Homo sapiens: one gene and its partners. The protein of the gene in region 6 purifies or fractionates together with the protein of the main gene of each other region. This does not show direct contact. Each region holds a gene or a part of one and is shown on either strand. Other genes may lie near its edges.

Region 1 (3,500 bases), on a different chromosome or scaffold from region 6:
GTCATCATGAAGCTATTTATGAAGGAGAAAGGCCGGGGCAGGGGGTGGGGGAAACAATCCAATCTTCCTGATAAAACCACACGATTCACAAGTTGAGTGGTCTTTGAAAGTTCATAATAGAGACACATACAGAAAAATGTGTTACAGTGAAAGTTTGACCTATATGTTCTTCTATATTGATGCCATGTCTCCATGATTCTAAAACAAAAGACTTTGAATTTACAGTTAGTAATTCATAAGGAAACAGATAAGGAGATAAGTGTAGTGTCTACTGCACCTTAAGCTGTATGAAAGCAGAGCCATTGTAGCCACAGAGCCTAATTCAAGGGTGACACAGGACATGCTCAGTAAATATTTAGAGACTGGCTGCGGTAGGTAACCGAATGACTAGATAGACATGAATATTAATATTTAGGAGGTTGAACCATTTGTGCATATATTAAGTTTACTCAAGCCTTATTAGCAAATAACAAAGTTTAATATGCTAGTGTATTGTAATTAAACATGGCTTTTGTGGGTCAAAAACAGTCATATTTGGGGAATTTCATATGGTTCAACTTCATTGGTGTAGTTCCAGAGTAAGCATAACATATATAAATACTGAAGTATATTCATTATTTTAAATATTTAAAATAATACTTACAGCAATGATGATAGATATCTTTAAAATCATCCATAATTCTACCATCTTCACATCCCATTAATTTCATTTATCTCTTTCTTCGTAGTCTGTATGTAATTTTAAAGCTATCTTTGTTTTATTATCAACAAAACATGGAACTGAACATTCATCAGGGATGTTTCAAAAACTGGTAATTCAGCCCCAGTAACTTAACTGTCTCATTTTATCTAAAGGAGAATTTGTTTGAAACAAATTTGCTAGTTGCAAATTAGCTCTGAGAACAGGCACAGCTTACGTTAAGTGAAAATTTTACTTTCCCTATTTCAATACAGCATAAGAACATACAAGTTACAATTATCTAAGTACAATACATTGTTTCTTTCTAATATATATTTTATTTAATCAGACATCTATTTACCTCTCCTTGAATTGCAGACTCACAGATGAATGCTTCTCACCCGGAAACAAACTTGCCAGTTGGGTATCCTCCTCAGTATCCACCGACAGCATTCCAAGGTAAAGCAGTTGCTGAAAGAAGAAAAAGTAAAATTAATTGAGAGACAGAGAGAGAGAGTGAGAGTGGGAGAGAGAGAGTAAGAGAGAGAGAGAATTGTGCATTTGTTTTTATTTTAGTAGTTCTTTTTTTAAAATTATATTAATGAAATTTTGGCAGCCTAGTTGTTCTTGATTATTTTTATTTGGCTATCATTTTGCACAGAAGTAATTTTTATTTATAGAGGACAGTAAAGGTATAAAGAAAGCTAGTAAAAACAACATTAGGTTTACATTTAGCAAATGAAATACAAGACTGTACATCCTAAAATACAAATGTTAAGTAAAATATTTTATTGATCCTCCATCTGTTCTGAAAATTATGATCATTTAATCACATTTAGGAAATTTATTTCTGATAAACTGAGTCATGTAGTAGCTTGGCATGTGTTCAGTGAGAGTCACATCAAAATAGTAAGACTGCTTAAAACTGAAAGTAATAGAAATTCAGTTACCTGGGAATAATTCTCATTTTAATTTTATAATGTATATGAAAGCTTTATTTTTATATATATGCTGATTCCACCCTGTATTTCTAAGAAAAGTAATTGAGTCATTTGACTACATACATAATTGAGTACATTTTTTCTTTTCAACCAATGCCTGAAAGAATTCAGAGATTTTCATTTAGGCAAATGCAGTTATCAAAACTACTAGAACTTTAAAAATAGCAAAGTCCATGGCATGTCCAGATTTACAAGCAGACAGGCTACCCACATCTTGAAAGAGCATCCTGAGGATTTAGGACCAAAGGGAATGTGGTTTGGATAGAAGGATGTACCCACTGTGTTTTCTTCTCTGAGTAAACAAATGTGCTTAGGAGCTGAATGTCATGTTTAATTGCCTAGCAAGAAACCTCCCTGCGGGTCCCGGATCTCATCCAGATGTTTGCAACTGAAAGAATATGAGCTAGATAAGCTCAGACTCTCAAGTGGTGGCTCATGGCAACCTTGTCTGCACTGAAGTATCATCACCCAGAAGCACTTAAAAATAGTAGTGCAAAGGCACTATTCCAGAAAAATTAAATCATAGCTTCCAGTGGTGGGACTCAAGGAATAGTAATCTTTTAACACCCCAAGTGATTCTAAGGTGAAGCCAGGGTTGAGAACATCTGCTCTAAATTCTTATAGGGTTGGTGTTTGAAAAATCATTAGTAAGTCTATAATATTCATCCAAGGCACTTAAGAGAATGATTTAATCCACCCTATCACTAATTAAAAGTAGATATACATAAATAATACAGTTCAGATATAATCAGACTTGAGAGTTTGTTTATATATATAGATATATATGGCTCTACAGCTTGATTTTGTTTCTCAAGTCCAAGATTACATATAGCACAAGTCTTAAGATAACGATGCTAAGAGTAAGGATAATTTAAAATTGAGATCTTACCATGCTTTAGTCATTGTTTTAAATGTGGAGTTAATGTGGACTAACACTTTTAATTCTTAGAATACTCTTATGAGGTAAATACTGTCAGTTATCCCCATTATGTATGTGGGAAAGCTGAGGCATAGGAAGTTTGTATCAGGCTTCAAGTTCTGCCTACTTTAAAAAAAAAATTCGTATAGGTAAATGTGCTGGTAAACCAGGTTCTGCCTTCTGTACTAATAGTTATGTGGTAGTTTAAACAAGTTGCAGTACCTCAAAGCCTCAGAGTTCCTATCTATAAATAAGGGTGATATTTTCAATGTAGGTTGCTTTGTAGAGTAAATGAGAGTATATGTAAAACACTGAGCACAATGCTTGCAAATTATAAATGACAAGTATTTGCTAACATATTTAAAATATTTTAAATCAATTAGTCTTTACATAAATGATACTAGTATTCAAATTTCAGGTAATTCTTTATGCTTAATTCATTGATTTGAGGAGTAATCCATCATACTTTCAGAGTCTGGGGAAAATTATGATGATGTTAAAAATGTAAGAAATTAACTCACATCTCCATATCCCCACTGGTCTGCCTATGGTCTGGTTTCTGTGCTGACCCCAGTGATCTTTAAAAATGTAAATCTGCTCATATTACAGAGAGTGTAGAGCCCCTATTTTATTAGTGGCCTATTACTTTTAGGATAAAGGCTAACACTAAACTCAGGATGGCCTTTTCCATGCTCTCTCTTTAACTTCCTCTTGAGCCTGGCTTGCTGTTATTCAGCTAGACTGGCTATTTTTCAGATTTTTAAAGGCCTATGTTAGTTACTGTCCCAGGACGTTGCTCTGAAATGTTCTTTCTGTGACTCTGGCCTCCTGAACTCCTGTGCATCCTTCAGATCTCAGCATAAAGGTGACCCCTCAAGGCAGCTGTTCCTGCTCCTTCCCT
Region 2 (2,652 bases), on a different chromosome or scaffold from region 6:
GAGCATTTTTTCATGTGTTTTTTGGCTGCATAAATGTCTTCTTTTGAGAAGTGTCTGTTCATGTCCTTTGCCCACTTTTTGATGGGGTTGTTTGTTTTTTTCTTGTAAATTTGTTTGAGTTCATTGTAGATTCTGGATATTAGCCCTTTGTCAGATGAGTAGGTTGCGAAAATTTTCTGCCATTTTGTAAGTTGCCTGTTCACTCTGATGGTAGTTTCTTTTGCTGTGCAGAAGCTCTTGAGTTGAATTAGATCCCATTTGTCAATTTTGTCTTTTGTTGCCATTGCTTTTGGTGTTTTAGACATGAAGTCCTTGCCCATGCCTATGTCCTGAATGGTAATGCCTAGGTTTTCTTCTAGGGTTTTTATGGTTTTAGGTCTGACATGTAAGTCTTTAATCCATCTTGAAATAATTTTTGTATAAGGTGTAAGGAAGGGATCCAGTTTCAGCTTTCTACATATGGCTAGCCAGTTTTCCCAGCACCATTTATTCAATAGGGAATCCTTTCCCCATTGCTTGTTTTTCTCAGGTTTGTCAAAGATCAGATAGCTGTAGACATGCGGCGTTATTTCTGAGGGCTCTTTTGTGTTCCATTGATCTATATCTCTGTTTTGGTACCAGTACCATGCTGTTTTGGTTATTGTAGCCTTGTAGTATAGTTTGAAGTCAGGTAGCATGATGCCTCCAGCTTTGTTCTTTTGGCTTAGGATTGACTTGGCGATGCGGGCTCTTTTTTGGTTCCATATGAACTTTAAAGTAGTTTTTTCCAATTCTGTGAAGAAAGTCATTGGTAGCTTGATGGGGATGGCATTGAATCTATAAATTACCTTGGGCAGTATGGCCATTTTCACGATATTGATTCTTCCTATCCATGAGCATGGAATGTTCTTCCATTTGTTTGTATCCTCTTTTATTTCATTGAGCAGTGGTTTGTAGTTCTCCTTGAAGAGGTCCTTCACGTCCCTTGTAAGTTGGATTCCTAGGTATTTTGTTCTCTTTGAAGCAATTGTGAATGGGAGTTCACTCATGATTTGGCTCTCTGTTTGTCTGTTATTGGTGTATAAGAATGCTTGTGATTTTTGTACATTGATTTTGTATCCTGAGACTTTGCTGAAGTTGCTTATCAGCTTAAGGAGATTTTGGGCTGAGACAATGGGGTTTTCTAGATATACAATCATGTCATCTGCAAACAGGGACAATTTGACTTCCTCTTTTCCTAATTGAATACTTTTTACTTCCTTCTCCTGCCTAATTGCCCTGGCCAGAACTTCCAACACTATGTTGAATAGGAGTGGTGAGAGAGGGCATCCCTGTCTTGTGCCAGTTTTCAAAGGGAATGCTTCCAGTTTTTGCCCATTCAGTATGATATTGGCTGTGGGTTTGTCATAGATAGCTCTTATTATTTTGAGATACGTCCCATCAATACCTGATTTATTGAGAGTTTTTAGCATGAAGCGTTGTTGAATTTTGTCAAAGGCCTTTTCTGCATCTATTGAGATAATCATGTGGTTTTTGTCTTTGGTTCTGTTTATATGCTGGATTACATTGATTGATTTGCGTATATTGAACCAGCCTTGCATCCCAGGGATGAAGCCCACTTGAACATGGTGGATAAGCTTTTTGATGTGCTGCTGGATTTGGTTCGCCAGTATTTTATTGAGGATTTTTATTTTTAATTTTTTGTTTTGTTTTTTGAGGCGAAGTCTCGCTCCGTTGCCAGGCTGGAGGGCAGTGGCACGATCTCGACTCACTGCAACCTCCGCCTCCCAGGTTTAAGCAATTCTCCTGTCTCAGCAGGAGTGGTTGGGATTACAGGCACATGCTGGCATGCCTGTATTTTTGTATTTTTAGTAGAGACGGGGTTTCACCATGTTGGCCAGGATGGTCTCAATCGCTTGACCTCATGATCCGCCCGCCTCGGCCTCCCAAAGTGCTGGGATTACAGGCGTGAGCCACTGCACCCGGCCTACATTTTAATTTTTACAAAAAACTCTTAAACTTTTTTGTGAGCAGAAATTCTCAAGTATCGAAGCGTGGTGTTTTAGGCTCCAGAAGAAATCCACTATTACAGTGTCCTAGTAGCCCAGACATATGTGTTAAATGACATGTATATACTTTGTTATTCTTTCTAATAAATAATACTCTTTTACAACTCTGCCTTCTGAGTGTCTCTTCCAACTCCCTATCACATGTTCTACTTACCAGTTAATGGCTGCCACATCCAGTTTGGAATGACCAAAGCAACAACAAACATCTGAGGGTGAACAGAGGTTATCTTTTTTCCTTATCCCTATTGCTGGAACAGAATGCCAAGACATGACATGTATGGCTTCCCAGGAAAGGAGAAGTGGGAAAACCAAGATCAAGACCAACCTCTGCCTCCAAGCTGTATTTTTCTTCTTTCTGTTGGCTTGACTATTGTGTAAGTTAGAATTATCGAATAAACTCTGCAGAAGCCTGCTAGCGATCCAAAACATATTTATGTTTATTAAATTTGAGTTATCTTTTCAGCAATTAAAGTTTATCATTTAATCTTTAATTGACTTAGTTGGAAATTTCTTTGCCAGTTTTCCAAAACACCATAGAATACAGTAACTTGTATCATAAAACCATGGACCTTTTTTGCTATTGGTTTCCCCCAGTATTATAAGA
Region 3 (3,500 bases), on a different chromosome or scaffold from region 6:
GCCTTCAGGCATGTTTGCCACGACTTCCTCAGTCACCTTTGTTAAATTATCTGTTGTGACATAATCTGTCTCAGAATCCTGTGCTGCTACAAGAAAAGGGTTTGATGTTTTGGTGCTAGTATTCTTCTCTGTTACTATTTGGGCCTTCTTTTCTTCTATTTTTTTTTCATCGGTCTTATTTTCTGAAGTAGGATCTCCTAACAAAGGAAAAATGTTTGTTGCAATGCTCTCAGTTGCTGCTGGGTTAAAGGGAGCACATGTGATATATGCTCCTGAACGATCCTTTATACCTTCTGGCGTACTGGGGAAAGAAGTATCATCATTACTACTCTCACTATCTTTTTCGTGATTAGTTTGCTCAAGGCTATCTGCAAAACATTTTTTATCCACTTTACTTTCCAAGTTGCTCTCGATTTTACCTCCAGCAGCCAACATATCACTATCTTCCTTACTATCTTTCACTTCCCATACTCGCTCAAATGGTTTGAAGTCTGCATATTCCTCCCTCATAGGAGCTTCCACTGCAACTCTCTTTTCATTAAAACTGTCTTTTGCTTTTTCTGAAGACACAACTTCATCCTCTTTAACCAATTTAGTAAGAGCTGTAGGTAACTCTTGTTGATTATGAAGGATGTTATTACTAACTAACTTCTCTTCTTCATCTTTATTTTTCACGATTATTTCTTCCCTAGGATTTGCTACTATTACGGCAGATTCTGCTTTTGGAGAGACACTGAACGATGATCCCATTTCTGAGTATTCTAATTCTGAAAACTCTGTTAAATCTCTATCTATGAGTAGAGTTTTTGCCTTCTCTGAGACCTCTTTAGAAGCTTCACTGACATTTTCTTGAAGTGTTCCTTCAGTGGGTAATACTGTTGACAAATTACCAAGGTATTCATGTTCTTTGAAAGAAGCGGCTGAGAGAGGAGACAGAGAAGGAAGAGAAGCAGCAGTTTCAAGCAGGACAGATGGGAAATCCTCTTGACCAGCCGAAATAGTGTTACCTGGCTGCTCCTTCAAGTCCATATTTTCTGTGACCATGGACAGAAAGGAAAGTTAGAGAATGCCAGTGTTCTCAGAGTTAATGCAAGTTTTATGACAGATCCAAAATAGTGTTAGTAAAGACTTACTGTTTACTAAAATGAAATGTTAATAGCAATTAATAAGTAACAATAGAGTAGACTTCAATCATTACTGAAAATATTAAGCTATTGTAAATATAACATATGCATGGCTACAGAGGCAATTACATGCTGTGCAAAGACAAATCAAGTCTGAGTAAACCTCAAATGTTATCAACTAAGATACTAATAGCTAGTTTTAGAGAAGAGAAGAATATCTGTGAAAAGAGTTTCGGTGACAGCATAGGAAAGAAGGGGCACTGGGTAAATGCCATAGACTGGTATTTATTTACAGGAAAGCCTTTCTGGCTATACTCAAACTGTATTTGGAGAAAGGGAATGGTAAATATGTAAATGTAATTCAAGGGTCCAAGAATTCCTTATGTACTTCCAAGTATTCATCAGATTTTGCTCATTTTTCCCTTGGGCATACCATATAAAATGCACATTTCAACTTTTCCAGTAGACAAAACATTCTCGGAACCATGCTAATTTTTAGTAAACCCAAACTACTCTGCATAGTGTTAACACACTAAAGAGTTAAAGTTAGAATACAGAGAGGATAAAAGGCTGGCAGAAAGAACTTGCCTGCAGAGGAGCGTATCACAGGCTCAGATGCAGCAGGAAGAGCAAAAAGGGTCTCATCTGAAAAACAAATAGAATATAACCTCAGCAGAAATAAAGACAGATTGAAAGGAGACTAAAGATAAGAGGAGCAAGCCAGGGTTCAGTTTGTAATAAGTTAACAAAAAACTTTACAGAGAAAGGGCCAAGATCAAAAGGAAGTCAGAAAAAGTAGTACCATTAATTCAGGTTAAATCATCATATGTATTATAAAGCTAATTAAATGTTATCCATAGAACCTATCATTTTTCAAGAGGCAATACAACCTGTTTATGTTAAAGAAACTTATGAATCAAAGTGGCTTTAAAATACTGTTCTACTTAACATATCACATCCCAAGCTTTCACTCAGGTTTTCACATAGGTAAATTGTCTTGTTCTATTCAGGCCAAAAACAAAAAGCTGAATTTGAATACAATTAACAACTACAAATGTTTAATCTTTTGTTATTGGCATATATTCAATTTAAAGAAACACTTTTAAAGAATTATGCATTTTCTCTTACATTCTAAGTTGTTACAGTCATTGTACATTGCTCTTTGAAGACATTAGTCCTGTGCCAATGTCCAAATGCCAGAGTCCAAAATACAAAAAAAAAAAAAATTAACTGCCTTTAGGATGACACCATTATTGGTTTTGCTTAAAATTAACCTAAGTGAGGGCTACTTGTTATTTGTATACACAACTAGTAAGTGAGAGACTAAGGCAATTCAATTCCAGAGCCCATTTCCTTAATCACTGTATGTTACAGAACTGAATGCTTATATTTCCTACAAAACTCATGTTAAAGCCCCAACCCCTAAAGTGATAGTATCTGAAGATGGGGACTTTGGGAGGTGATTAGGGTTAAATGCAGTCAGGGTGGGGCCCTGGGCCAAGGGGATTAATGCCCTTACAAGAAGAGACACCAGAGAGCTTGCTGTCATGCTCCCTGTCTCCCCAGGCACACACAAGAGGTCATGTGTGCACACAGTGAGATGGTGGTCACCTATAAGCCAGGAGAAGAGGCCTCAAAAAGAAATCTACCTTGCCAGCACCTTGATCTTAGACTTACCAGCCTCCAGAATTGTGAGAAGTAAATTTCTGTTCAGCCACCCAGCCTATGGTATTTTGTTACGGCAGCCCAAGCTAACTAATACACTCTATATTGGTAATATTAACTTTGTACAATGTCATCTTGTACCTGCAGTTGGGAGATCCTAAGCTAAAGATCTTCCATGGTTTACACTAGAGAAAGGCCTCTACCATCAGACAATTTGAAACAGCCTGAGAGATGACTGGAAGGTGATATTCCTTTAACAGAGAGAACCTAATAAATTTAGACAATTTCATCTGGATGGACAAGCTAGACAAGGCTGATCAAAACAGATAAAAATCCAAGAAATGTAGCTAACATGAATACGGACTTGTCTTCCAAGCATATTACCCTTAATGAATTAGGAGAGCTAACTTCACAAGGTCTTATATATTTTAGATAAATATATACTGGGCATGAAGTCATACTTAAAGGATTCCTAGATGAGGGTGATGACGGGAAATTTATGATGTGTGTTTAAAAGGGTTTCCTCCAACCTAGAGCACTAGGTAGGATGGGCTATCCAGTCAAAGGGGTAACATAATGGCTTATAAGATTTTTAAATAAAGTGCATATATATGTGTACACATATTTAAAAGATTACTTGCTATGTGATCTTAAATTACAGTTTCTCATTTGTAAAATGAAGGAAAGTTCCCTTCAGCTAAAATAATGAAT
Region 4 (3,500 bases), on a different chromosome or scaffold from region 6:
AATTCACAGATGAGGAAACTGAAGCTTGGGCATGCTGATTCCCTGGACGGGGGCCACACAGCTAGTTAGTGGTAAAGTTGGGGCCATAATTTAGTTCTCTAAATATTGGTAGGCCCCTCTCTGCCTTCTCACGTTCCCCTTCATGTTAGATGTGAGAGCTCTGAACTCTCAAGATGCAAGGCTCTGGGACTCTGTATATGGTAAGTAGGATGTCCATTGCGTATGTGCTGGGCAGTTTCGGATACGAGATATTTGTTGGGAGCTCGGTGCATTGGCTCATACCTGTAATCTCAGCACTTTGGGAGGACAAGTTGGGAGGACCGCTCCCAGCAGGATTGCCCAGCAGTTTGAGACCAGCCTGGGAAACATAGGGAAACCCCTGTCTCTACAAACAGTAAAAAAAAAAAATTGCTGGGTGTGGTGGTGCATGGTTGTGGTCCCAGCTACTAGGGAGGCTGGAGTAGGAGGGCTGTTTGAGCCCCAGAGGTCAAGGCTGCAGTGAGCCATGATTGCACCACTGTACTCTAGCCTGGGTGACAGAGTTAGACCCTCTCTCTCAAAAAAAAAAAAAAAGAGATTTGTTGGGGAACAAGCAGGTAACAGCAGGTAGGTAGGTGGGCACACTGAACTAGAAAGCTTAACAATAGGAAGGATTTTTTTTCTACTAGAAAATCCTGGTCTATTTTAATTTTCCTACATCTTCCTTAGAATCCGGGTTGAGGGTTTCATATTTGTATCTCATTGATTCTGGGGTGATGTGTAACAATGTGTAATGTCTCTGTGTCTTACCTCTTTTTCTCTTTTTTTTTCTTTCTTTTTTTTTTTTTTTGAGACACAGTCTTGCTCTGTCGCCCAAACTAGAGTACAGTGGCACAATCTTGGCTCACTGCAACCTTTGCCTCCCGGGTTAAAGCTATTCTCCTGCCTCAGCCTCCTGAGTAGCTGGGATTACAGGCACCCGCCACCGTGCCCGGCTAATTTTTATATTTTTAGCAGAGACAGGGTTTCACCATCTTGGCCAGTCTGGTCTAGAACTCCTGACCTCGTGATCCATCTGCCTTGGCCTCCCAAAGTGCTGGGATTACAGGCGTGAGCCACTGCACCTGGCTTTCCTTTTTTGAATGAAGGAAAGAAAGAGCAAACCTAATTCTCAGACCCCAGAAGATTTGAAAGATCTTTGGAATTTCCCTCCTCCCCACCCCAAGAAAACCCAATGTAATCTCTGGGACTGAGGAGAGGAAAGGATCAGTTTTCTTTGGACTGTGATTTGCATGTGTCAGGGCCTTCCTGAACCCTGGGGCACAGTTGAGTCTCCATGAGGACTTAGTTTTTGGGTGGCTGGGGTTTCAGGCATGCTGGTGAGTTGAGTGCTAGTCTGAGACCAGTGTGCTCCTGGTCTCCTGGCCTGTGGCGTGACCGCAGAAGGTCACTTACAGACACAAGGGCAAGTAATTTAATGAGCATTTCCTGCCTTGCATCACTGGAAACCTGATCTCGTTCCTCCCAGCCAAGGAAGAAGGTGGCCCGTAGCAGCTTTTCCCTAAGTCTGACCTCACAGTGATGCAAGGGCCTTGAAGGCCATGGTAAAGATTTTGGCTTTTACTGCTAATGACATGTACATCCGTCTGGCTGCTGTGTATAGAATAGACATCAGGGAGACAGGCTCGAAGCAAGAAGATCAGCATTATTTCATTAATAACCCTATGAAATTGATCCTAGAATCTCTGTTTTACAGAGGTTAAGTCACTTATCCAAGGTCACATGGCCTGTCAGTGCAGGAGCCAGGATTCGAACCCAGGCTGTTGAACACCAGTGTCTGTGCTCTTAACTACTGCCCTAGGCTCATCTGTGCCCTGAGTACTCCTGTTAGCTTTTGTTTCTCTTCTATCTTGGCTTGTGGGGCGTCTTTCTTTCTTTTTTATTTGAGACGGAGTCTCGCTCTGTTGCCCAGGCTGGAGTGCAGTGGCTCGATCTCAGCTCACCACAACCTCCGCCTTCCAGGTTCAAGCGATTCTCCTGCCTCAGCCTCCCGAGTAGCTGGGATTACAGATGTGTGCCACCACTCCTGGCTAATTTTTGTATTTTTAGTAGAGACAGGGTTTCACTATGTTGGCCAGGCTGGTCTCGAATTCCTGACCTTGTGATCCGCCTGCCTCAGCCTCCCAAAGTGCTGGGATTACAAGCGTGAGCTACCGCACCCAGCCGGGCATCTTTCTTTAGTAGCAGATTGTGCAGAAAAAGACACTGCACAGGGAATCAGTATTCTTGAGTTCAGGTCCTAGCTTTGCCATTGTCTAGTATCTGAATTTGGTGAGCCACCTCTCTCAGGTTGAGTTTCTTTATCTAAAAACAAAGGCTGACAATAATAATAATCATAACAACAACAATAACAATAATAGCTAACTGCGTGAAACACAGATTATCCCATTTAATCTAAATATCAACCCATGGCCTGGCGCAGTGGCCCATGCCTGTAATCCCAGCACTTTGGGAGGCTAAGGAGGGCAGAGCACTTTGAGCTTAGGTGTTCAAGACCAGCCTGGGCAACATGGTGAAACCCCATCACTATAAAACAAACAAACAAACAAAAAACAAAAAAAAACCTTAGCTGGGCATTGGTCGCTCGCTCCTGTAATCCCAGCTACTTGGGAGGCTGAGGCTGAAGAATCGCTTGAACCCAGAAGGCGGAGGTTGCAGTGAGCCAAGATCGTGCCAGGGTACTCCAGCCTGGGTGACAGAGTGAGATCCTGTCTCAAAAATAAATGAATGAGTGAATGAATGAATGACAACCCTGTTTTTTAGATGAGGAGATTGAAGCTAAGAGATGCTGAGTAACTTGAAAGTCATGGAGCCAGAATTCGAACCCATGCCTGCTGTATAACTCAGATACTAATACCGTGGGCTCCAAAAGTATCCTGAGACTCTTAGCTCTAGAAGAAAAGTTTTGAACTTGCTGGGTCCCTTTTCATTTATATAGTGCTTTCACACAATGCACTATCAGGACTCTTAGTTGCAAATGAAAAAAACCCAGTCTGACTGGTTTTAAGCCAAAAGAGGGTTTATTGAGTCAAGTCTAGTGGCAAATGGCTTCAGGCAAGGCTGGATCCAGGAGCTCAGGTGATGTCTGTGTCTGTGTGTGGATGTCTCTCTCTCTCTCCTCTGTGTCAGCATTATTCTCAGGCAGTCCCTCCCATGTTGTGGCAAAGATGGCCAGGTGGCCCTCAGCTGACATCTGTCAGCTTAGCAGCTCTGGCAGAAACAGAGCATCCTTTCCCCCTGTGGTTTCAGCAAGCGTCCCAGGGCTGACTCTCATTGGCCCAGCTTGGGTCATGTGACTATGCCTTACTTAACCAGTCACTGTGGCACTGATTGGCCAGGTCACGGTCACATATCTGCTCCTGAAGCCTAAAAGTGGGATCAGTGCCACCACACTACATGAAACGAGTTGGGGAGGGATGGTCCCATGAAGGAAAATCAAAAAGCTGGTAGTTTAAAAAAAA
Region 5 (2,944 bases), on a different chromosome or scaffold from region 6:
ATAATCCGGCTGCCTGGGCACCACACTGAAGGTAATGGGATAATCCGGCTGCCTGGGCACCACAGTGAGGGTTATGGGATAATCCAGCTGCCTGGGCACCATAGTGAAGGTAATGGGATAATCCAGCTGCCTGGGCACCACACTGAAGGTAATGGGATAATCCGGCTGCCTGGGCACCACACTGAAGGTAATGGGATAATCCGGCTGCCTGGGCACCACAGTGAGGGTTATGGGATAATCCAGCTGCCTGGGCACCATAGTGAAGGTAATGGGATAATCCAGCTGCCTGGGCACCACAGTGAGGGTTATGGGATAATCCAGCTGCCTGGGCACCACACTGAAGGTAATGGGATAATCCGGCTGCCTGGGCACCACACTGAAGGTAATGGGATAATCCGGCTGCCTGGGCACCACAGTGAGGGTTATGGGATAATCCAGCTGCCTGGGCACCATAGTGAAGGTAATGGGATAATCCGGCTGCCTGGGCACCACAGTGAGGGTTATGGGATAATCCAGCTGCCTGGGCACCATAGTGAAGGTAATGGGATAATCCAGCTGCCTGGGCACCATAGTGAAGGTAATGGGATAATCCAGCTGCCTGGGCACCATAGTGAAGGTAATGGGATAATCCAGCTGCCTGGGCACCATAGTGAAGGTAATGGGATAATCCAGCTGCCTGGGCACCATAGTGAAGGTAATGGGATAATCCAGCTGCCTGGGCACCATAGTGAAGGTAATGGGATAATCCAGCTGCCTGGGCACCACAGTGAGGGTTATGGGAGACGGGGTTTCACCGTGTCAGCCAGGATGGTCTCGATCTCCTGACCTCATGATCCTCCCACCTCAGCCTCCCAAAGTGCTGGGATTACAGGCGTGAGCCGCGGCGCCCGGCAGAGGTGAGGGCTTTGGGGGAACGGTTGTGGGGCCTGGAGTGTGGAGGCGTCAGCGCAGGCCTGGCAGGAGCCCTGAACCGGGACAGTGGGGTCCTGCAGCTGCTGGCCTGGGGTGTGGAGACCCCCAACACAGGGGAAGTCTCCAGGACCCCACACCACTAACAAGATGAGCCTTGTGCTCCCTTGGGCTCTAGAGAGGAAGCCCCTCTTAGCCCTCAGCCCCTCTTTCCTCCCTCTCCTAAAGTAATTTGATCCTCAGGAATTTGTTCCGCCCTCATCTGGCCCCGGCCAAATCCCGATTTGACAAATGCCAGGAAAAGGAAACTGTTGAGAAACCGAAACTACTGGGGAAAGGGAGGGCTCACTGAGAACCATCCCAGTAACCCGACCGCCGCTGGTCTTCGCTGGACACCATGAATCACACTGTCCAAACCTTCTTCTCTCCTGTCAACAGTGGCCAGCCCCCCAACTATGAGATGCTCAAGGAGGAGCACGAGGTGGCTGTGCTGGGGGCGCCCCACAACCCTGCTCCCCCGACGTCCACCGTGATCCACATCCGCAGCGAGACCTCCGTGCCCGACCATGTCGTCTGGTCCCTGTTCAACACCCTCTTCATGAACCCCTGCTGCCTGGGCTTCATAGCATTCGCCTACTCCGTGAAGGTGCGTATGGCCCCAGGGAATGCTCAGAGGGTGCCGCTGAGCCTGGAGCTCCACCTGCCCACATGCTGCCTGGGGTGGGGACTTGTGTGTCCCTGTGACTGTGAGTTTGTGTGCACCTCTGTCCCGTGTGTGCCCACGTCAGTGGCTTTGTCTGTGTGATCTGTGTGTGTGTGTGGCTTGGGGAATCTGCCCAGTGCAGGTTTAGGAGGAGGCTCCAGGAGGCTGGCTGGCTGGCTCAGAGTCTGTCCCCGGCTATCCACTAGCCCAGAGCAGTTCTCCCTATAGCCCAGTAAGAAATTACACCTTCACCTTCCAGACTGGCACCCAGGCTCTCCCAGAAAGTGAGAAGGGAACTCACAGGTGACTTCACCCCATGGTGGGGAGAACAGCCTGTGCTGAGGTCAAGGCAGAAGGAGGATGAGCCCCGAGGCTCCTGGAGAGTCTGAGCCCGGGTGAGGAAGGGGAGGAGGTGGTCCCTGATCTCAGGGCGGGGAGAGCCAATGAGGAGACGGAGCCATAGCACGCGGCTCTCAGCTGGGGGATCCTGGTCCCCTCACCATCTCCTCTCCCCCAGTCTAGGGACAGGAAGATGGTTGGCGACGTGACCGGGGCCCAGGCCTATGCCTCCACCGCCAAGTGCCTGAACATCTGGGCCCTGATTCTGGGCATCCTCATGACCATTCTGCTCATCGTCATCCCAGTGCTGATCTTCCAGGCCTATGGATAGATCAGGAGGCATCACTGAGGCCAGGAGCTCTGCCCATGACCTGTATCCCACGTACTCCAACTTCCATTCCTCGCCCTGCCCCCGGAGCCGAGTCCTGTATCAGCCCTTTATCCTCACACGCTTTTCTACAATGGCATTCAATAAAGTGCACGTGTTTCTGGTGCTGCTGCGACTTCACCTGGGGAGGGGTCTGGCTGAGGGTTCGGAGCGTGGTTCTGAGACTGAGCAGGTTGGTCAGCCCCTGCACTGCCCCTTCCGGCCTCTGTGCATCTCTTGGGGACCGGGCAAGTGCTCAGGCCTTCTGGTTTCGGGCCTCCTGCCGTGAGCAGCAGCTGGATCCAGGACCCTGGGAGGAGTTCCTGTGTCCTGCAGGTCTCAGCTCCTACTCAACGTGGGCTCTTTCCGGGAACGTCAGTGCTGAGTCCGGGACACCCTGGGCCCAAGGCCACGCTCGCGGCCTGTCGGCAATCCAGGCTGTCGGCTCAGGACAGAGGGAAGGGTTAAGCCCCCAGCAGGGCCAGGGAGGGGCAAGGTGGCACCGGCTCCCCAGCTGCTCCCAGGCCCTGCTCTGTGGTGCTGGGGACCTGGCTTTAGTTCCTCGGGGTGGAGGGGGCACCGCGCTGCCTGCCTCCGAGCTGTCTGGAGCAGCCAGTCCTGCAGAT
Region 6 (3,500 bases):
ACAGGAAGAGCAGTGAGGTGGAGTAAGCAAGGGGAGAATGATAGGGGATGAGCAAAGGGTCAGCGGTAGAGAGGAGTGGATAGATTAGGTCCTATAGGCCCTTGTAACAGCTTTAAATATTACTCTGAGTGTGATGAGAGCCACAGGAATGGGAGAGGTGTTAAATAGAGAAGGAACATATTTAGAGTTCAGTTTTAAGTTTAATGACTCACTCTAGTCACTGCGTTGAGAATCTAACATGGGGGTGGTGGTGGTTGGTGTGGAGCAAGAGTGACCTACTAGTAGGCCATTGCAATAATCTGAGAAAGAAATCATGGTGGCTTGCACCAGAGTAACAGCATTGGAAGAGGTGAAAAGTGGTTGGATTCTAGATATATTCTGAATGTATGTAATGTGTTAGAAAGAACACAAGGGACATGCCATGATTTTTGGCCTGAGTAAACACAAGAATGAAGTTGTTATTAGCTGGGGTTGGGAAGACTTTAGGAAGAGCAAGTTTTAGGGAAAAAACAGGAGTTTGGTTTTACACATGTTAATTTTTGAATGTCTGTTTGGTGTCCAAGTGGAGATGTCAAGTAAGCAGTGTAGAGTGGGGCTGGGGAGTGATCTGATCTGCTTATATACATTGGGAGTTGTTGGTGTAGAGATGAGATCACCAAGGGAGTGAGTGTTGACAGTGATGAGGTCAAGGAGTCCTGGGTCACTCAAATATACAGAGGTCTTTCAAAGAAAACTGAGTAAAAGTGGGCGACGAAGTAGGAAAACTGAAAGAGACTCCAGAAGAAAAGATAAATATATGTCAAGAGGAATAGAATGATTGATTCCGTCAAATGCTGCTTGTGGTTAAGATAGAGACTGAGAGCCAGCCACTGGATTTGACAATGAGGAAGTCATTCAAAGTGCCGGGAAAAACATCTCGGTTGAAATGGTTTTAGAGCAAATGAGAGGGGAGAAAATAAGAGATGGTATTTGTAGACTTGACTCTTTGGGGGAGTTTTGTTATAAAGGAAACTGAATAAGAGGTAACTGTATGGAGAGTGAGATGAAAAGAAGGGAAAGTATTTTTTTTTTGCTATGGAGAATATTAAGGCATATTTGCAAGATGATGTAAATGATGCAGTAGTCAGGGAAAGATTGGTGTTGCGGGAGGTGGGGGCATTTCCTGAAACTGTGTCTCTGAATGAGTAAGCAGGGATGGATCCAGCACACAGACAAGGGCTGATATTGGATAAAGGTGAGGACAGTTCATGGCTATAATGGAGGAAAGACAGAGGAGAGGGCACACCTGCAGGGAGTGGTTGGAGATGGGGCTGAGAACAGGTGGAAGTTTTCCATTAACTGCTTCTATTTTATCAATGAAATAGGAAGCAGGGTCAACAGAGTGAAGGCAGGAGTGGAATTGTTGAAAGTTTGAGAAGAGGGGAGAAGGTATAAAATTGTCGTTTGGGAAAATGAGAGAGTGAAAGGACTAGGGCAAACTGAGGGAACACTGAGTAGCCCTTGGGGCTCACTTAGAGCTTAAAGTGAGACCAATCACTGTATATGTTATCTTGTTTTTGGTTTAGAGTGCAGGGTTAGTTGGATTGATTTTTGTTTTCCAGTGATCCCAGTGGGAACAGATGGGAAATGGATTTGAGGATATATGCAAGGCAGTATATAGATGCTTGGTCTTGGAATCTGCTGAGGAGGAATGAAGCATAGTAAAAAGATGACATAAGCAGTGGATTGTATATGCTGGCAGGGTTGCTAGAGTAATGGTACTAGAGTAAGGGAGATGAAAGGATAAGAGATGATGATTTGGTAGCTGGGGTGTTTGAGGTAGATAGTAGGAGGGGTACTATTACTGAGAAGCAGTGGAAAACTGAGATGGAGTGGATGACAAGGTCATTGGAGGAGTCCAGAAGAAAGGTGAAAATAGGAGTGAAACAGTCACCTACATGATTACTGACATCACAATGAACCATGACAGATCCTGGGAATTACAGTAAACCAGACGCTAATGGATATCTTTAGGAAGGGACATAATGGCCTAGGATTCTGCCTAGGGGCTTTTAGGGGGAAGGAAGAACAGTGGCCTGTAACATTATAAATGTAAAATGTTGACTATAAGTTCTGAAAATTCTATTTAATATGTATAGAACGTAGGAGATGCAACTTAAAATAGTTCATGGTGGGGGTTGGGAATTTTGTAATTAGCTAAATATGAGCTAGTGGTATGGTGAAATTACTAAAATATCTTATGTAATTTCAGATAGTATTAATAGAAAGTCTCAGGTGCACATTATACGAGGTAATAGCTCCCCTAGATTCTGTTCTAGGCAGGCCAAATTTGGATTCTCATACTAAAGGGTAGGTGCCATGTTTTGAGAGACATTGACGAGCTATAATACGGTGAGAGCAGGGCAATTGGGAGGCTTTTGGAAAACATGCCATTTGAGAGATAGTTAAAGAAATTAAGAATTTTTATCCAAAAGAAAAGAATGAAGATCTGAATGTTAAATACTAGAAGAACTTTCATGAAGCAAAGGAAGAAGACTTGACCCAGCTGATTTCACAGAGCAAAATTAGGACTAGTGATGTGGAGAAGTAGATTTCTTCTGAATGAAAGAAAATGTTCTAATAATTAGAACTGATCAGAAAAGACAGATTCTCTCCCAGTTAGTGATGTTCAAGCAAAAGCCAGGTTGCCATTTTAATGTGGGGAAAGCAGAAAGGAAGTCATTAGTTACACTAAGATGTTTATATCTTCCTAAAAGACAACAGTGCCCCTAACTTGACATTGTTATTGTTACATTATTACTTGTATTAGTCCATTTTCACACTGCTGATTAAGAGATACCCGAGACTGGGCAATTTACAAAGAAAAAGGTTTAATCAACTTACAGTTCCATATGGTTGGAGAGGCCTCACAATCATGGCAGAAGGCAAGGAGGAGCGAGTCATGTCTTACATGGATGGCAGCAGGCAAAGAGAGAGATTGGGCAGGGAAAATCCCCCTTATAATACCATCAGATCTTGTGAGACTTATTCACTATCATGAGAACAGCATGGAAAAGACCTGCCCCATGATTCAATTACCTCCCGCTGGGTTCCTCACATAACACGTGGGAATTCAAGATGAAATTTGGGTGGGGACACAGCCAAACCATATCATTCTGCCCCTGGCCCCTCCCAAATCTCATGTCCTTACATTTCAAAACCAATCATGCCTTCCCAACAGTCCCTCAAAGTCTTAACTCGTTGCAGTATTAACTCAAAATTTTATAGTCCAGTGTCTCATCTGAGACAAGGAAGTCTCTTCTGCCTATAAGCCTGTAAAATCAAAAGCAACTTAGTTACTTCCTAGATACAGTGGGGGTACAGGCATTGGGTAAATATAGCCATTCTAAATGGGAGAAATTGGCCAAAACAAAGGGGCTACAGTCCCCATGCATGTCTGAAATCCAGCAGGGCAGTCAAATCTTAAAGCTTCAAAATGATCTCCTTTGACTCCGTGTCTC
Region 7 (3,500 bases), on a different chromosome or scaffold from region 6:
GCTACCTCTTGGGGTTACCCAGGGTTCGCTGTCATCCCTTTTGTGCTCTGTGTATTTGGGTGAACCATGTTCCCACAGCTTCGACTCTCACCAATATGAAGCGAGTCCCAGATTGGCATGTTAAGCTAGCTTGAGCATGCTCCTGTGTTCCAATCAGTTACCTGCAGTCTGGTGCGCTTACCCGTGCCCTTTAGGCCAAAAAAACACCCCAAAATAAATCCAAAATTGATTTTAGTTTTCACCACCCACCCCATATCCGCTTCATTGTTAGCGAAGATTTGTCCGTTTTTTTTTGGCAGTGGTTCCACCGTTCATGGAGATGTTGGAGCAGGGGTCTCACGGTGATGCCAGGCTCCCGCACTGCCCACATGCAGGCTGTCACCAGATCCTGTTGCTTCTTCATGCTGTGAAATTCCACAAAGGTCCGCTCTAGTCACGCTGGCCTTGCCTTGCTTTAGAGCCCAAAAGTGGCAAAATGGTGGCCGGTGTGCCACTTCTAGCAGTAGGCAGCAGTGTTGTTGGCCTGAACAAAGTATATACAACTTGAGTTAATATTTAGAAATCTGGAGATGCCACTTGGATGTATAGCTTCTCCTAAAAGCCAGAAGACCTGGATGAGGCAGTGCGTGGTGGCTCATACCTGTAATCCCAGCACTGTGGGAGGCTGAACCAGGCGGATCACTTGAGGTCAGGAGTTCAAGACCAGCCTGATCAACATGGTAAAACCGCGTCTCTACTAAAAATACAAAAATTAGCTGCGCCTATAATCCCAGCTACTCGGGAGGCTGAGGCAGGAGAATCGCTTGAACCCGGGAGGCAGAGGTTGCAGTGAGCTGAGATGGCGCCACTGTTCTCGAGCCTGGGTGAAAGAGTGAGACTCTGTCTCAAAACAAAAACAAAAACAAAACAAAAAAAACCTGGAATAGGAAGCTTACATTCCCATGTGGCAAACCTCAGCTGCTGCTGGGTTTCCAGTGCCTGAATACACTGGAGGTAGGTTGCTTTCTGGTTCCCCCAGACCTGTGACCCTTGCTTATAGTGGCGTTCTGGCTCCCATGGGCTTCAGAGCTAGAGACCCTAGGCTGAGACGATCATCGACAGCCTGGGAATGCCTAGTGCTTACTGCACAGTGTCGTGCACCTCATGTTGCATCCCTTCTAACTCTCTTCCATGTTATTGCTGGTGTGACTTTCCTCCTGCTGCCCCAAATCCAAGTCTTCTTGGGTCCCTCCTAATAAAATTCAATGGCTCCCTCTTGATCTGGGCTTAAATCCCTGACTCTAAAGGAGTGGCCATGTCATATCACAAGTTTGGTATCTCAAGATTGAAAGATGAGCTCTCCGCTATCTTTATACAGTGTTGTACCCGAGTTTCTGAAGATGCTTTTGAGCTTCTGTAGGGTAGTTAATACAGAGTTCTAGTGTTGATGACAGTCCTGCTGTTTACAAAGCATTTCTACAAGCCTGACTACTGCCCCACTTCCTCGCAGCCCCCCTGGGTGGAGATAGGGCAGGGTCGATTCTATATCCCAAACAGCAGTGGGGAGTCTGTAAATATGGAGGCATAGGCCATCCCAGGGAGTCCCCCACCCTTGGAACATGGGGAACCTTGTTTTACATGTGGTATCCAGAGTCATACAGTGTGTTCCTGAGGTCATTTAGACACCTTAGGGCAGAGTCTTGACCCAGAACTCAGTTCCTGTCAGCATGCAGCCAGGGAACTTTCCACAGTGCTCCATGGGCTCACCAGGCTGCTGGCCATTTGTAATGACCCAACAGAGTCAAAGCTTTCTTCACTCCCTTCCCATCTCCTTGCCTTGTCCCCTGCCTGAAACATTCTTTTCTTGCAAAACTGAACCTCCCGTAAACTGCACTGGTACCGCCCAGTGCTTTTCTGCCTTTGCTCCTTCTGTACCTCTGCCTGGAATTCCCTTTCTCCTCCTGTGTTCATTGTCTGGCTGATTTCTCCTTTTTCAAGACTCAGGCTCAAAAAGGCCTTGCTGGCAGTCACCACCCCAGCCCTCTGTGGCACATGTGCAGTGTACACACACGTCACCCCTCCCCGTGCCTACCTCAATGATGGCAGTTTTTTGTGTTGTAGCAACATGCCCTATCCAGTAGACTCTAAGCTCCAGAAAGACGTGCCTGTGTTTTAGTTTTATTTGCACCAGCGGTGGTGTGTGGCCCAAAGGCAATTAACAGATGTCTGAACTAAACCATATTCATATTTTTTGTAAGTTTACTGCATGCTTTATGGAAGAGTGTTTGTATTCCAGACTCAAAGGGGAGCTCTCTCTGCCAGACCTCCAGCCCTCATTTTGGTACTAGCAAATTTAATATATATCCTCAGACATTTTAAATTTTTGATTAACCTTGTCTTTTGAGATAAAACATTACTTAGAGAAAAGCGGAAGTCTAATACAGAAGCACTTGTGTGCCTGTGTTCACTTCAGTTATCCTCATCTGAACCTCCCTTTGGCATGGTTCTGCCCTCCTTGAGGTCTGTTGGCTGGGCTGCACTCTGCATTTCGTGGTTTTACAGGGTAGGAGAATGCATTTTGGTTTATTTCTATTAACTTTGGTGATGGTGATATATGACCTCTTGGTGACTTTTTTTTTTTTTTTGCCATGGAACTTTTTTGGCTGGTATCGTCAGTCACATTTGGTGGAAAGAGCAGGCTGGGAGAGGGTATGGGCTGCACCACCAATAGAGCGTGTAGGTTACCATCTAGAACTCAGTTTCCTTGTCTGTATAATGGGTATATTGAAATAAATGATCTAAAAGGTGTCTTATTTTTAAAACCTATAAATTCTTGGCTCAGTTTCCTTTTGATGTGGCTTTCTCATAAGTGTTAAGTCTAGATAAAATTTTTTCGTAAATGCATTATCCTGTGCTCATACACCTTAAAGTTCTTGTCTCTCACTTTTTTAAGCCTATAAAATCATTCAGCATTATATTCAGAAACAGCATCATGGGCCAACATGAAGATTTAGTTTGTATTCCCACTTAGAGCATTTATAAAAATTTTAAATAAATTAGGTCCCATATACTTGAATCTTGTCAACCTGTTCTCCACACATAAATGTGCCCATCTTCTCTTTGCAAACCATCTTTCCTCATGAGTAGATTGCACGCCTAATCTGAAAACCAATGTTGGGTTTTTAAAAAATACCCTTAGATACAGAATGGAGTCAAATGCAATAAACTACATCTTTAGGTTATCTCTTGTCTGCAAGTTCCCAATTTAAGAATACTGAGAGATTAGTATGATTTTATTTCTCTTTTGAGAAATACCACCTCCCATCCAACAGGCCAAGTCTATTTCTACAGTCAGTGAGTCTTGCCTTTATTCTGCTGTTAGATTTCTAGGTCTGGATGTAAGCCCAGTCCAGGGAAGTCGGCATCCCTTCTGGGATTCTTTCTGTGCATGAGGATGGCCACTGAGCCCAAGCAATCCTCTATTTGTAATTCCACTCGTATGTTTTGGCAAACATGTCCTA

Evidence for each region.
Region 1: the proteins of RTN1 (region 6) and PLSCR1 purify together in Homo sapiens (affinity purification with mass spectrometry; 2 studies listed by BioGRID and IntAct, with this or other methods). This does not show direct contact.
Region 2: the proteins of RTN1 (region 6) and FAM241A purify together in Homo sapiens (co-immunoprecipitation; 3 studies listed by BioGRID and IntAct, with this or other methods). This does not show direct contact.
Region 3: the proteins of RTN1 (region 6) and RTN4 purify together in Homo sapiens (affinity purification with mass spectrometry; 4 studies listed by BioGRID and IntAct, with this or other methods). This does not show direct contact.
Region 4: the proteins of RTN1 (region 6) and TMEM120B purify together in Homo sapiens (affinity purification with mass spectrometry; 2 studies listed by BioGRID and IntAct, with this or other methods). This does not show direct contact.
Region 5: the proteins of RTN1 (region 6) and IFITM3 purify together in Homo sapiens (affinity purification with mass spectrometry; 2 studies listed by BioGRID and IntAct, with this or other methods). This does not show direct contact.
Region 7: the proteins of RTN1 (region 6) and SERPINE2 purify together in Homo sapiens (affinity purification with mass spectrometry; 2 studies listed by BioGRID and IntAct, with this or other methods). This does not show direct contact.

Annotation. Positions count from the first base shown.
Region 1 is NC_000003.12:146,531,108-146,534,607, reverse strand, and holds part of PLSCR1 (phospholipid scramblase 1), read left to right. Parts: intron 1-1,057; coding exon 1,058-1,138; intron 1,139-3,500. UniProt on the Homo sapiens protein: Catalyzes calcium-induced ATP-independent rapid bidirectional and non-specific movement of phospholipids (lipid scrambling or lipid flip-flop) between the inner and outer leaflet of the plasma membrane resulting in collapse of the phospholipid asymmetry which leads to phosphatidylserine externalization on the cell surface.
Region 2 is NC_000004.12:112,193,105-112,195,756, forward strand, and holds the end of FAM241A (uncharacterized protein FAM241A), read left to right. Parts: 3' UTR 1-2,152; downstream 2,153-2,652.
Region 3 is NC_000002.12:55,026,452-55,029,951, forward strand, and holds part of RTN4 (reticulon-4), read right to left. Parts: intron 1,770-3,500; coding exon 1,713-1,769; intron 1,035-1,712; coding exon 1-1,034. UniProt on the Homo sapiens protein: Required to induce the formation and stabilization of endoplasmic reticulum (ER) tubules. They regulate membrane morphogenesis in the ER by promoting tubular ER production.
Region 4 is NC_000012.12:121,715,752-121,719,251, forward strand, and holds part of TMEM120B (transmembrane protein 120B), read left to right. Parts: intron 1-3,500. UniProt on the Homo sapiens protein: Necessary for efficient adipogenesis. Does not show ion channel activity.
Region 5 is NC_000011.10:319,176-322,119, reverse strand, and holds IFITM3 (interferon-induced transmembrane protein 3), read left to right. Parts: upstream 1-1,259; 5' UTR 1,260-1,306; coding exon 1,307-1,555; intron 1,556-2,129; coding exon 2,130-2,282; 3' UTR 2,283-2,444; downstream 2,445-2,944.
Region 6 is NC_000014.9:59,860,777-59,864,276, reverse strand, and holds part of RTN1 (reticulon-1), read left to right. Parts: intron 1-3,500. UniProt on the Homo sapiens protein: Inhibits amyloid precursor protein processing, probably by blocking BACE1 activity.
Region 7 is NC_000002.12:224,032,787-224,036,286, reverse strand, and holds part of SERPINE2 (glia-derived nexin isoform b precursor), read left to right. Parts: intron 1-3,500. UniProt on the Homo sapiens protein: Serine protease inhibitor with activity toward thrombin, trypsin, and urokinase. Promotes neurite extension by inhibiting thrombin. Binds heparin.